2 separate regions of the Homo sapiens genome follow, and region 1 is reported to be linked to region 2. The links are microRNA targets in miRTarBase. Many come from high-throughput screens and were not tested one by one. Region 2 holds a microRNA gene; the other region holds the end of a gene's coding sequence.
The links. The annotated mature microRNA hsa-miR-4509 reads ACUAAAGGAUAUAGAAGGUUUU and lies in region 2 at 3,681-3,702, shown strand. An mRNA with a match to its seed (bases 2 to 7 or 8) in the 3' UTR can be bound and repressed. Matches are read on the target gene's strand: a 7mer-m8 pairs with bases 2 to 8, a 7mer-A1 pairs with bases 2 to 7 and ends in A, and an 8mer does both.

Region 1 (5,390 bases), not on the chromosome of region 2:
TCTTCCCTTTGACTTCACTGAAATTTCTCCTTTGATTTCTCCTTTCTTCTCTGTAACTAGAACTTCCAGTTTTACTTTCATCCCTTCCTACTTTTTTTTTTTTTTTTTTTTTGAGACGGAGTCACACTCTGTCACCCAGACTGGAGTGCAGTGGCACAATTTCAGTTCACTGCAACCTCTACCTCCCAGGTTTCAGCAGTTCTTCTGCCTCAGCCTCTCTAGTAGCTGGGACCACACACACCCAGCTAATTTTGTATTTTTAGTAGAGATGGGGTTTCACCATGTTGGCCAGGCTGGTCTGAAACTCCTGACCTCAGGTGATCCACTCGCCTCGGCCTCCCTACGTGCTGGGATTACAGGCGTGAGCCACCACGCCCAGCCCCTTCCTAGCTTTCTGATGGTCATGTTTTTAGTCTGTCTCCTTAGATCTGCCCACTAAGTTGTTTTATAAAATCTGAACCTTAACAGATAAATCCACTGCATAAGTTTACTGTATCCCTCCTGGCCTCCACAGGTCTGAGTTTCTGAGACCCCCTAAACCACTGACTGAAGCATGTCCTCCATTGCACAGCATTGGAGGCCTTCCAGCCTGTGCTGCTTCTGCAGCTTCCTACAAACCCATACCTAGGTAGATGTGTCAGCCTTTACAGGTGTTCACTCGGGACTCCCTTTGACTTGCCCAACCATTGACGAGTTTTAAGTAGGAGTTAGATTTAAAAAGACATATGAATGTTTTACTCTGTACATTCATAGAAGAGAGTAACCACCTTGTTTTTGCAACCTAGGTACCTTGTGGGTCAACGACTCGTGAACTACGAACGGAAATCTGGCAAACAAGGCTCATCTCCACCACCTCCACAGTCATCCCAAGAATAAAGTAGTTGTCTCAACAACTTGACCTTCCCCTTTACATGTCCTTTTTTGTGGACTTCTCTCTTTGGAGATTTTTCCCAGTGATCTCTCAGCGTTGTTTTTAAGTTAAATGTATTTGACTTGTGTTCTCAGCATTCAGAGAGCAGCGGTGTAAGATTCTGCTGTTCTCCCTGGATCTTCTGACATTACTGCTGTCTGAGATTTGTATATGTGTAAATACAAGTTCCTTGATACCCTAAAACCTTGGATTAAACAGAATGTGCATTGTACATCTTTAAACAAAATGTATATTAATTTATTAAATCTAGTTGTCACTTTATTTTGGACCTGCTGTGATCTCGACAGGAAACGTGCCACAGAGCAGTAGTGCGCAGGCAAGACTTTTCAGTGACGCCTTGTGGAACGCAGTTCATGATGTCCTAGCAGCTCTCACTAAGGGAACTGTACATTCTTTCTTTCTTGGCTATTCAGACCTTACCAAGAACGTTAAAGGAAACAAGTAGAAATCAGCAGTGGAGTGTCTGTGGTAAGAAAACATGAACTTTATGCTTCACTGTTAGTTGTTTGTGGAAGTTATTTTGTATAACACCAAAGCTGTTGTACATTTCCTACTGCCTGATTTTTTTCATGTGTCTGTGTTTGTAATATTGTATAGTATCTTGTGCTAGGTGAGGAAATTATTTTTAATTTTGATAATTTAATATTCCTAGTGTGATCAGCATTGGGAGTTGGGTTTCAGTGGGGCATGTCTATACTTAGAGAAAAAAAGTCCAAATGAAGATTTTCATGAGTCAGCCCCCCCGCCCGCCCCCACCCCACACCCACATCCTCTCTTTTCCACACACAACTATCTGTTTATTTTTTGTAGCAGTGGCCGAAAGTCCTGCAAGGTCATAAATCTTTCAGAGTGACATCACCAACTGTACTGCATCTTACTGGATTTAGGACTTCTGAGATGCTTGTGAAGTATAGATGTGGTTGTGGTCTTAGATTGACAGCATTAGAGAAGACTGGTTAGAACATCTGGTCTCGCTGGTTAGTGCCTCGTTGGCTGAGGACTAGGTGTGCATTTCTCCTAGCTTTTCATCAGGAAATCCCAAAGTTTCCAAAGCTTTTTGTTTACAGAATAAAACTTCAAATAAAACCAATTCATTATTTGTCCAGAAGGAAGCTTGGCTGAGCTGGCCTTTTAACATAGGAATGTATTTCGTTGGAAACATTCTGAAAAATCTCAGAGAACTGAACCCTTACAAACTTTGTTTTCCCTCATAACCAAAGCTTCAGGTTAGAAGTTTAGAAAAATAGAATGGTTGGGTACATGATCTAAATGTTTAATGCTAAAGGTATATCGTAAGGGTAGTGTTTGTTTTTGAACGATAATTTAGAAGTTCTCATAGAAAGCGTATAACATAGGTCTTCAGAAACTATAAAAGAATTTTCATATAGTATTAAAATCCATAGACTAAAATCTGAGAATTTTTTAACATATGCAAGTCAGCCAAACATAAGCTACCAAAATAAAGAGCAATGTGTTCTGGCTGTTTTATACTTCAACAATTTTTTCCCTAAGTGGTAAGCAATTACTTTAAAACATATTTTTAAAAACATCGGTATCGGGAGCTGCGGTGGCTCCGGCCGGTTGTCCTGGCACACAAGGAGGCGAGGCTATGCGTTCGAGGCCAACCTAGGCAAAATTGGAAAAAAAAAAAAAAATCAGTATCAGAAATAATGCTTGACATAGGATTCAGTGTTATACTCTTTGGCACTTTAGAGCAGCCTTTTCTCTCATTTGAAATAAGGTCTTTGTTAGCCCTACCTTTACTCAGAAATTTAGTCCTACTATAAAAAATTAGGATTTTAAAATATAATGCTGCCTGTCATAGTGTATTTCTAAATTGCTCTCTTTGGGAGAAAAACATTATTATTGAATTGAGCATATAACTATATAACTATATAACTATATATATATATATATATATATATATATATATATATATATATATATATATATATATATTTTTTTTTTTTTTTTTTTTTTTTTTTTTTTGCCCCCGAGACAGAGTCTTACTCTGTTGCCCAGGCTGGAGTGCAGTGGCACGATCCTGGTTCACTGCACCCTCTGCCTCCCAGGTTCAAGCGATTCTCCTGCCTCAGCCTCCCAAGTAGCTGGTACTACAGGTGCGTGCCACCACACCTGGCTTATTTTAGTTATTTTAGTAGAGATAGGGTTTCACCATGTTGGCCAGGCTGGTCTCGGAACTCCTGACTGCAGGTGATCCGTCCTCCTTGGGCTCCCAAAGTGCTGGGATTATAGGTGTGAGCCCCCACGCCTGGCCAACTTGATTATATTAATTTTGGGTTTTTTGTTTTGTTTTGTTTTGTTTTTTAATTTTTCAAAGAATTTGTGGATCTTGGTATAAAGTCATTGGAACATATCTGTTTTAACAGCAAGAGATCCTAGGCAGATACTTCAAAAGGTTAAAAATTCTTAATCCTACAGAATTTTAAATGAATCTTATCAATGTTTTGTAAACAAACAATATGAATGGCCAAAAAATTGCCCTCCATTTTACTGGCAGGTAATTTATATTGTCTTACTTAAGAATTCTCCCCTAGTTTTTCAATTGTACTTTATCGTGTTGTTTTCAATGAGATAAGTATTTTCATAGGGAAAGCATTTTCCAGCATAATATTTGCTTGGGTAGCATCCGGGTTTTAGTATTTAACCAAGAGCCTTTTAAATATTGAAAACCCATAGTTCAGAAAATGTTAGTATTGCTGCCCTTCTTCACATAAATTTTTTTTTAAATTATACTATTATTTTGCTTAATTTTATATTGGGTTAAAACAACCTTCAAGAAGGTTAACTAGGAAAGAAGACCTTTTTGTTTTATTTTTACTATTTATATATAGAAGACAAATCAGCATTTGGTGATAGTTTTACATGACCAGTTATCAAACGGTCATAGTATGAAGTGTGCAGTTGTTCATTATTAGTAAATTATGTTTGATTTTTAAACTATTTAGTACTAATAGTTGAGATGAAAACTGAAGAAAAATGCCAATGTGACGTTTGTGTATAGCTAGCCTTAAAAAACTTCCCATGTTTTTAGGTGACTTTTTTCCCCCTCTTAGTACTCTGGAGAAACAATGAAGATGGGCCATCTCAATTCCAGATGTAAACAAAAAGTAATTTTTATTTCAACATTTAATGTAACTGCTATTATTGTGGATTCTTGTCTTGTGTATTTTCTTTCCCTTATTCAAGTAATATAGAATAACTTTCCTTAAAATGATTTGATCCAAGATACGTCATTTCTGTATTGGCAAAATGCCACTATTAAAGTGTAATTCTTGAATTTAGGTTGAATTGATGACTTTTTAAAACAAAACAAACACTGGACAGTTCTACATTGTATTGCGTTTGCGAATGTGCGTGAACACACGCACACGTGCAGGAGAATGTAGTGCCATAAGAACACTGGCGCTTTTTAAAACTTTCCAAGCTAGCTACTTATTTTCATTTTCAGGGTTGAGTACTCTAAGCTCTCTACTTACTGTGAGAAGTTTTCTACATTGTAAAATTAAAAGATTATATTTAAAATACTTCTTTAGGATGTTATTCAGCCATCAAAAAAAAACCCAACTAAAATGTCTTACCAGTAAAGTATTATTAAAAGCCTCATTTGTGGAGATTCGCTGACTTCCTTGGTTAAGCTGTCTTGTATTTACTTAATTTGTCCCCTCAACCAGGTGTTTTCTTTTCAGCCTGTTACTGTCCTGTGCCATTTTTAAAAATAGCCATCATGAGTAAGGGCTTCTTTAAAATAATCCCTGACAATATCTTTGGCATTAATACGACATAAAGACAAGACAGTATATGTATGTTTTCATTCCTGTTTTGTACGAGTGCCTCATTTTGTAGTCATGAAAGTAACATAGTACCTTAAATAAAAATGTAATGACTAATCTAAGGTCTAGGAATAACTATTGTAGAAGCTAAGTAGAACACTTAGTTTGGGGTGTCAATTTTCTATCAACGCAAACACCTTAGGGTACCCAGACCAATTTTATGTATATATATTCTGAAATGCTCCCTTTTTAATGTGGTCATTTGTTGCCTTCTAAGTTGAGAGGACAAAACTGAATAAAGTGAATGTTAATTGTAGTCTAGTTTTTTTGTTTGTTTTTGTGTTATTGCAAGATTGCTTTAAGATTGCAGAAATATGCATTATTAGCCAGCATAGATAATCCAGATGTTATAATAGGAAGGAAAAACAACTCCAGTTAAATGTGACTGTGGCGACTCCCTTTTATGTATACATTTAAATGCATAGTTGCAGAGGACACATCCCTCCCCTTCTGTCTCCCTAACTTGAACTGTAGACCGTCCTCACTGGGAAGAGTAAGGCCCCACATTTTGTGCAATAGCAAGCTACTGCCCACTTCTGCATGTCTGCTACGAGATCAGAAAGTCAGTTTCACTAAGGTTGTCTTTTAGCTGAATACTTAGAGTA
Region 2 (5,390 bases):
CATCTATCTATCTACTGACCCATTTATTAAATTTTCAGCATTTACTTTGTACTCCAAGGACCAGAACCATGTTTGTCTTGTTCACTGCTGTACTCCTATTGCAAGGACCTAGAACATAGTAGGAGCTCATCAAACTCTGAGGTTTCAAAATAAGTGAATAGAGGTTGTAGCAGGAAGAAGTCTAAGATAGCCCCTATGACCTTCATTTCCTCATGTTACCCTGTTGATACCTCACACGGCAAAGGAGTCTTGCACATGTCACTAAGGCTAATAATCCGTCAGCCTTAAGACGGGGGGAGTATCTGGGTAAACCTAACCTAATCACACCAAAACTTCACAATCAGGGAGTTTTCTACAACTGAGAGTAGAATGGGAAGTCAGAGAGTTTCAGAGTCCAAGAAGCATTTATAGCACCCTTATTGACTTTGAAGATGCTTTGCTTCTTCTTTTGAGTTCAGTTTGAGATTATCTTTCTAATAATTGATTAGATTTTATTCTTGTAAAACAAGAGATAATTTAAAGGAATCTATTTTTAAATACTCTGAGGAGGGTGATACTAGGGGTGCTGGTTGTCCTGTTTTAACTTTGTCTTAATTTCTAATGTAATTAAATTTTGAGTAGGTAATGTGACCTGTGTGGTTTTTATTTTAAAAAATATGTTGAGGTTTTATATAATCTATTTTTAAAATATTCAATGGAAACTTGAAAACATACTGTTTCACATATTCTCGTATATATATATTAAAAATCTTTTTTTATTTATTTTTTATTTTTATTTTTTTTTGAGACGGAGTCTCGCTCTGTCGCCCAGGCTGGAGTGCAGTGGCGCCATCTGGGCTCACTGCAAGCTCCGCCTCCTGGGTTCACGCCATTCTCCTGCCTCAGCCTCCCGAGTAGCTGGGACTGCAGGCACCCACCACCACGCCCAGCTACTTTTTTGTATTTTTAGTGGAGACAGAGTTTCACCGTGTTAGCCAGGATGGTCTCGATTTCCTGACCTCGTGATCCGCCCGCCTCAGCCTCCCAAAGTGCTGGGATTACAGGCGTGAGCCACTTAGCCCGGCCTAATTATTTGTTTTTTAAAAGACGGTACATAGGAAGAAGTGAATCAGGAAAAGTGGATAGTGATTGGTGGCAGTAGAAGTGAGTCAGTGTTACAGTTACTATTGCTGCTTAAGAAACTAACCCAAATGGCCTGGGCGCCGTGGCTCACGCCTGTAATCCCAGCAGTTTGGGAGGCTGAGACGGGCGGATCATGAGTTCAGGAGATCGAGACCATCCTGCCTAATACGGTGAAACTCTGTCTCTACTAAAAATACAAAAGTTAGCCTGGCCTGGTGGTGGTGGGCGCCTTAAGTCCCAGCTACTCGGGAGGCTGAGGCAGGAGAATGGCGTGAACCCGGGAGGCGGAGCTTGCTGTGAGCCGAGATCGCGCCACTGCAGTCCAGCCTGGGCGACAGAGGGAGACTCCGTCTCAAAAAAAAAAAAATTTAAAAAAAGAAAAAAGAAACTACCCTAAATTTAATAAGGTAAAACAACGACCACTTCATTATATCTCATGGATCCTATAGGTGAGAAATTCCAGCAGGATTCATCTGAGTGATTCTTCCTCTCTCACATCATTAACTAGGGTGACTCAGTGCTAGTCGGCTGGCAAACAAGTCAGTCTGGAAGGTGCAAGGTGCTTTTTTTCTGTCTTATAAATTGATGGAGTTGTCTGGAAGGCAAGGCTCAGATGGGAAGGACTCTTAGTTATAGTGCCTGCACAGAGTAAACTTTTTTTTTTTTTTTTGAGACGGAGTCTCACTGTCCCCCAGGCTGGAGTGGTGTGACCCGATCTCGGCTAACTGCAAACTCCGCCTCCCGGGTTCACGCCATTCTCCTGCCTCAGCCTCCCGAGTAGCTGGGACTACGGGCGCCCACCACCAGGCCCGGCTAATTTTTTGTATTTTTAGTAGAGACTGGGTTTCACCGTGTTAGCCAGGATGGTCTCGATCTCCTGACCTCGTGATCCACCCGCCTTGGCCTCCCAAAGTGCTGGGATTACAGGCCTGAGCCACCGCGCCCGGCCTGCACAGGGTAAACTTCTTATATGGCTGCTGGCTTTCCGCAGATCAAACACTCCAAGGGAACCAGGTGGAAAATGCCTGGTCTCTTTTTATCTCACTTTAAAGGTCAGGTAGAATTATTTGTCATACTCTATTGATTGTAGCAGTCACAAGCACGTCCAGATTTAGGGAAGGGAGACATAGACCTATTTTTTGATGAGAAGAATATCAACCTGTTTTTGGACTATGTTTAAAACTGCCACACATGACAATTACACACCAGGTAGAAGGCATTTGGGGACAGACTTGAAGGAAATGAGGAGGAATCGTGCTCTGCTGAAAGAAGAGCATTCCAAAGAGAGACCACAGCTTGGGCAAAAGCCCTGAGTTGGAATCATGTGGACTTATTCTTAGAACAGCATCGAGGAAGCCATTATAGCTGGAGTAGAATGAGAAGGGGGAAGAGTATTAGTAGATGGTGGCAGAGAAATAAACATGAGAAGACGGATGATGGAACGAGCACCTTGTAAGTCATTTTAAGGACTTTGGCTGTTCCTCAAACTGACATGGGACCATTGAAAGATTTTTTTATTTTTTATTTTTTAAATTTAACTTTTAAGTTCAGTGGTACACGTGCAGGTTTGTTATGTAGGTAAACTTGTGTCATGGGGGTTTGTTGTACGGATTATTCTGTTACCCACATGGTAAACCTGCTACCCACTAGTTGTTTTTCCTGATCCTCTCCCTCCTCCCAGCTTTCACCCTCCTTTTCAAAATAAGACATACATGCAGCCAACAAACATAGAAAAAAAGCTCAGCATCACTGGTCATTAAAGAAATGCACATCAGAAGTACAATGAGATACTATCTCACACCATTCAGAATGGTTATTATTAAAAAGCCAAAAAATAACATGTTGGCAATATTGTGGAGAAAAGGCAACATTTCTACACTGTTGGTGGGAGTGTAAATTAGTTCAGCCATTGTGGAAGACAGTGTGGTGATTCCTCAAACACCTAAAAGAACTACCATTCGACCCGGCAATCCTATTACTGGGTATACACCCAAAGGAATATAAATTGTTCTGTCATAAAGACACATGCATGCATATGTTTATTGCAGCGCTATTCACAGTAGCAAAGGCATGGAATCAACATAAATGCCCATCAATGGTAGACTGGATAAAGAAAATGTGGTATATATACACCATGGCATATTATGCCACCATAAAAGATGAGATCACGCCCTTTGTAGGAACATGGATGGAGCTGGAAGCCATTATCCTTAGCCAACTAATGCAGGAACAGAAAACCAAATGTTCCCACTTAGAAGCGAGAGTCAAAGGGGAGAATACATGAACACGTAGAGGGGAACAACATTGAAAGATATAAGCAAAGAAGTGATATCATCTGAATTGCATTTCTGAGATTTCTCTGGCACTTGTGTAAAAAATAGCTGAAAGGAATCAACGGCAGAAGCTGGGAGACCAGTTAGGGAGCTTTTGCAATAACCATAAGAGGAAATATGTGTGGCTTAGACTAGGAATCGTCAGGTTGGGAGTGCTCATATTCAAATGTGGTCAGAATCCGGACATTTTGAGTGAGCCTACAGAAAGCTTTAATACTATCTCAAACTAAAGGATATAGAAGGTTTTCCCTTTCTCTTGCCCTGAAACCTTCTGTATCCTTTATTTTGAGATAGTATTAGAATTCTTACTATCTTACTGACAATTCTCACTATCTTGTTTTATAACTTGGAACATGATTATAATTATAGTATTGTTAAATATTTTATTTTTATTTTATAATTATACTTTAAAAATATTATTTTGGTAAATAATCATAAAATATGAAAAATAAATCTTTCCATTAACTGAATCAATTGTCCCCTTGCAGGATTTTGGCTTCACAACTTCCTAATCCTTGAAATATTAATTTTGATTATTTTTCTAATATGTACCCATATGTCTTTGAGTAAATTTTTATTGGAAGGACAAATCAGTGCTGGATATACAGATGCCATTGCTTCGTACTCAGGTAAAGACAACCTGATATTTATGATCCTCTTGATCATATTTTTATTCTCTTAAAATCTTTATGTCTTCTAATAATGTTAACAGAGAAGAAAAAAAGTCTTATCTAAGCCTGACTTTTTATTTTTAAGGAAGTTTTTTTCTTTATTTGTAAAATTCAGGAGTTTGGCTAGTTGTTATTTAAATATGGAGAACTCTTCCTTGTTTCTTCCCCCTCCCTGCCTAGAAACTGGTTGGTGCTTTTATTATTCGTACTTCAGTGATAGCTTTGATTATTGTTTCAGATCTCCTTGCCCTTGTGTCTTTCCCTAGTACACAAACTATTCTCGAGGTGGAACCTGTGGTCTCTGGCATACCCATCCGCCTTCTTCTCTGTCATTAGTTCATCTCTTCTTTTGCCCTCCAGAGCTCTGATTCAATTGCTGCTTGAACTTTTCAGTGTGTCAGTTTCTTTCTCCACGGATTTCCCTGTGGATGGAAAATCTGCCCTTGCACTTTAGTTTTCATAGAAGCCTCATCTCAGCTATCTCCCATTTTGTGATATGAGCCTCTTTTGTTATTGTAGCCTTCATCTCCTATTTCCTAAATTCCATGTGTTTCTACATACTGTTCATAGACAAATAGTTTAAAGCAATGTTCTATAGTTTCTTGTGGTTTGAAAGTCATATATTTTTAAATACGTTTTCTCCCCCTGAGAATTCAGCATACAGTTTCATTTTTCTTGTACGCAGGATGATTTTTAGGATTTTTTTTCTGTTATTTTTTTCCATTCTGGTTACCTAGAAGGTAGTGATTATTACCCCAAACCAGGGTTTGATACTGTGTTAGTCCACTTTCATACTGCTATGAAGAAATACCTGAGACTGGGTAATTTATAAAGAAAAAAAGGTTTAATGGACTCAGTTCCACGTGGCTGGGGAAGCCTCACAATCATGGCAGAAGGCAAAGGAGGAGCAAAGACATGTCTTACATGGTGGCAGGCAAGAGAGAGAGCATGTGCAGGGGAACTCCCCTTTATAAAACCATCAGATCTTGTGAGACTTATTCGGTTTCACAAGAACAACACAGGGAGAAACCCATCCCCATGATTCAGTTACCTCCCACTGGGTCCCTTTCATGACATATGGGGATTATGGGAGCTACAATTCAAGATGAGATTTGGGTAGGGACATAGCCAAACCATATCATTCTTCCCCTGGCGCCTCCTGAATCTCATGTTCTCACATTTCAAAATCAATCATGCCTTCCCAACAGTCCCCCAAAGTTTTAACTCGTTTCAACATTAACTGAAAAGTCCACAGTCCAAGGTC

Region 1: the mRNA of MARCHF6 is a reported target of hsa-miR-4509. Seed matches in the 3' UTR shown: 7mer-A1 at 2,639-2,645.

What each region holds. Positions count from the first base shown.
Region 1 is chr5:10,432,809-10,438,198 of GRCh38, forward strand. It overlaps MARCHF6 (membrane associated ring-CH-type finger 6), which reads left to right. Exons shown (of 26, transcript NM_005885.4): 26 at 786-5,390. The coding sequence ends at 876. Among named protein-coding and RNA genes, the nearest start is that of ROPN1L-AS1, 6.3 kb to the right of the region's middle.
Region 2 is chr15:28,422,828-28,428,217 of GRCh38, forward strand. MIR4509-2 (microRNA 4509-2) reads left to right here and starts at 3,664; the gene lies at 3,664-3,757.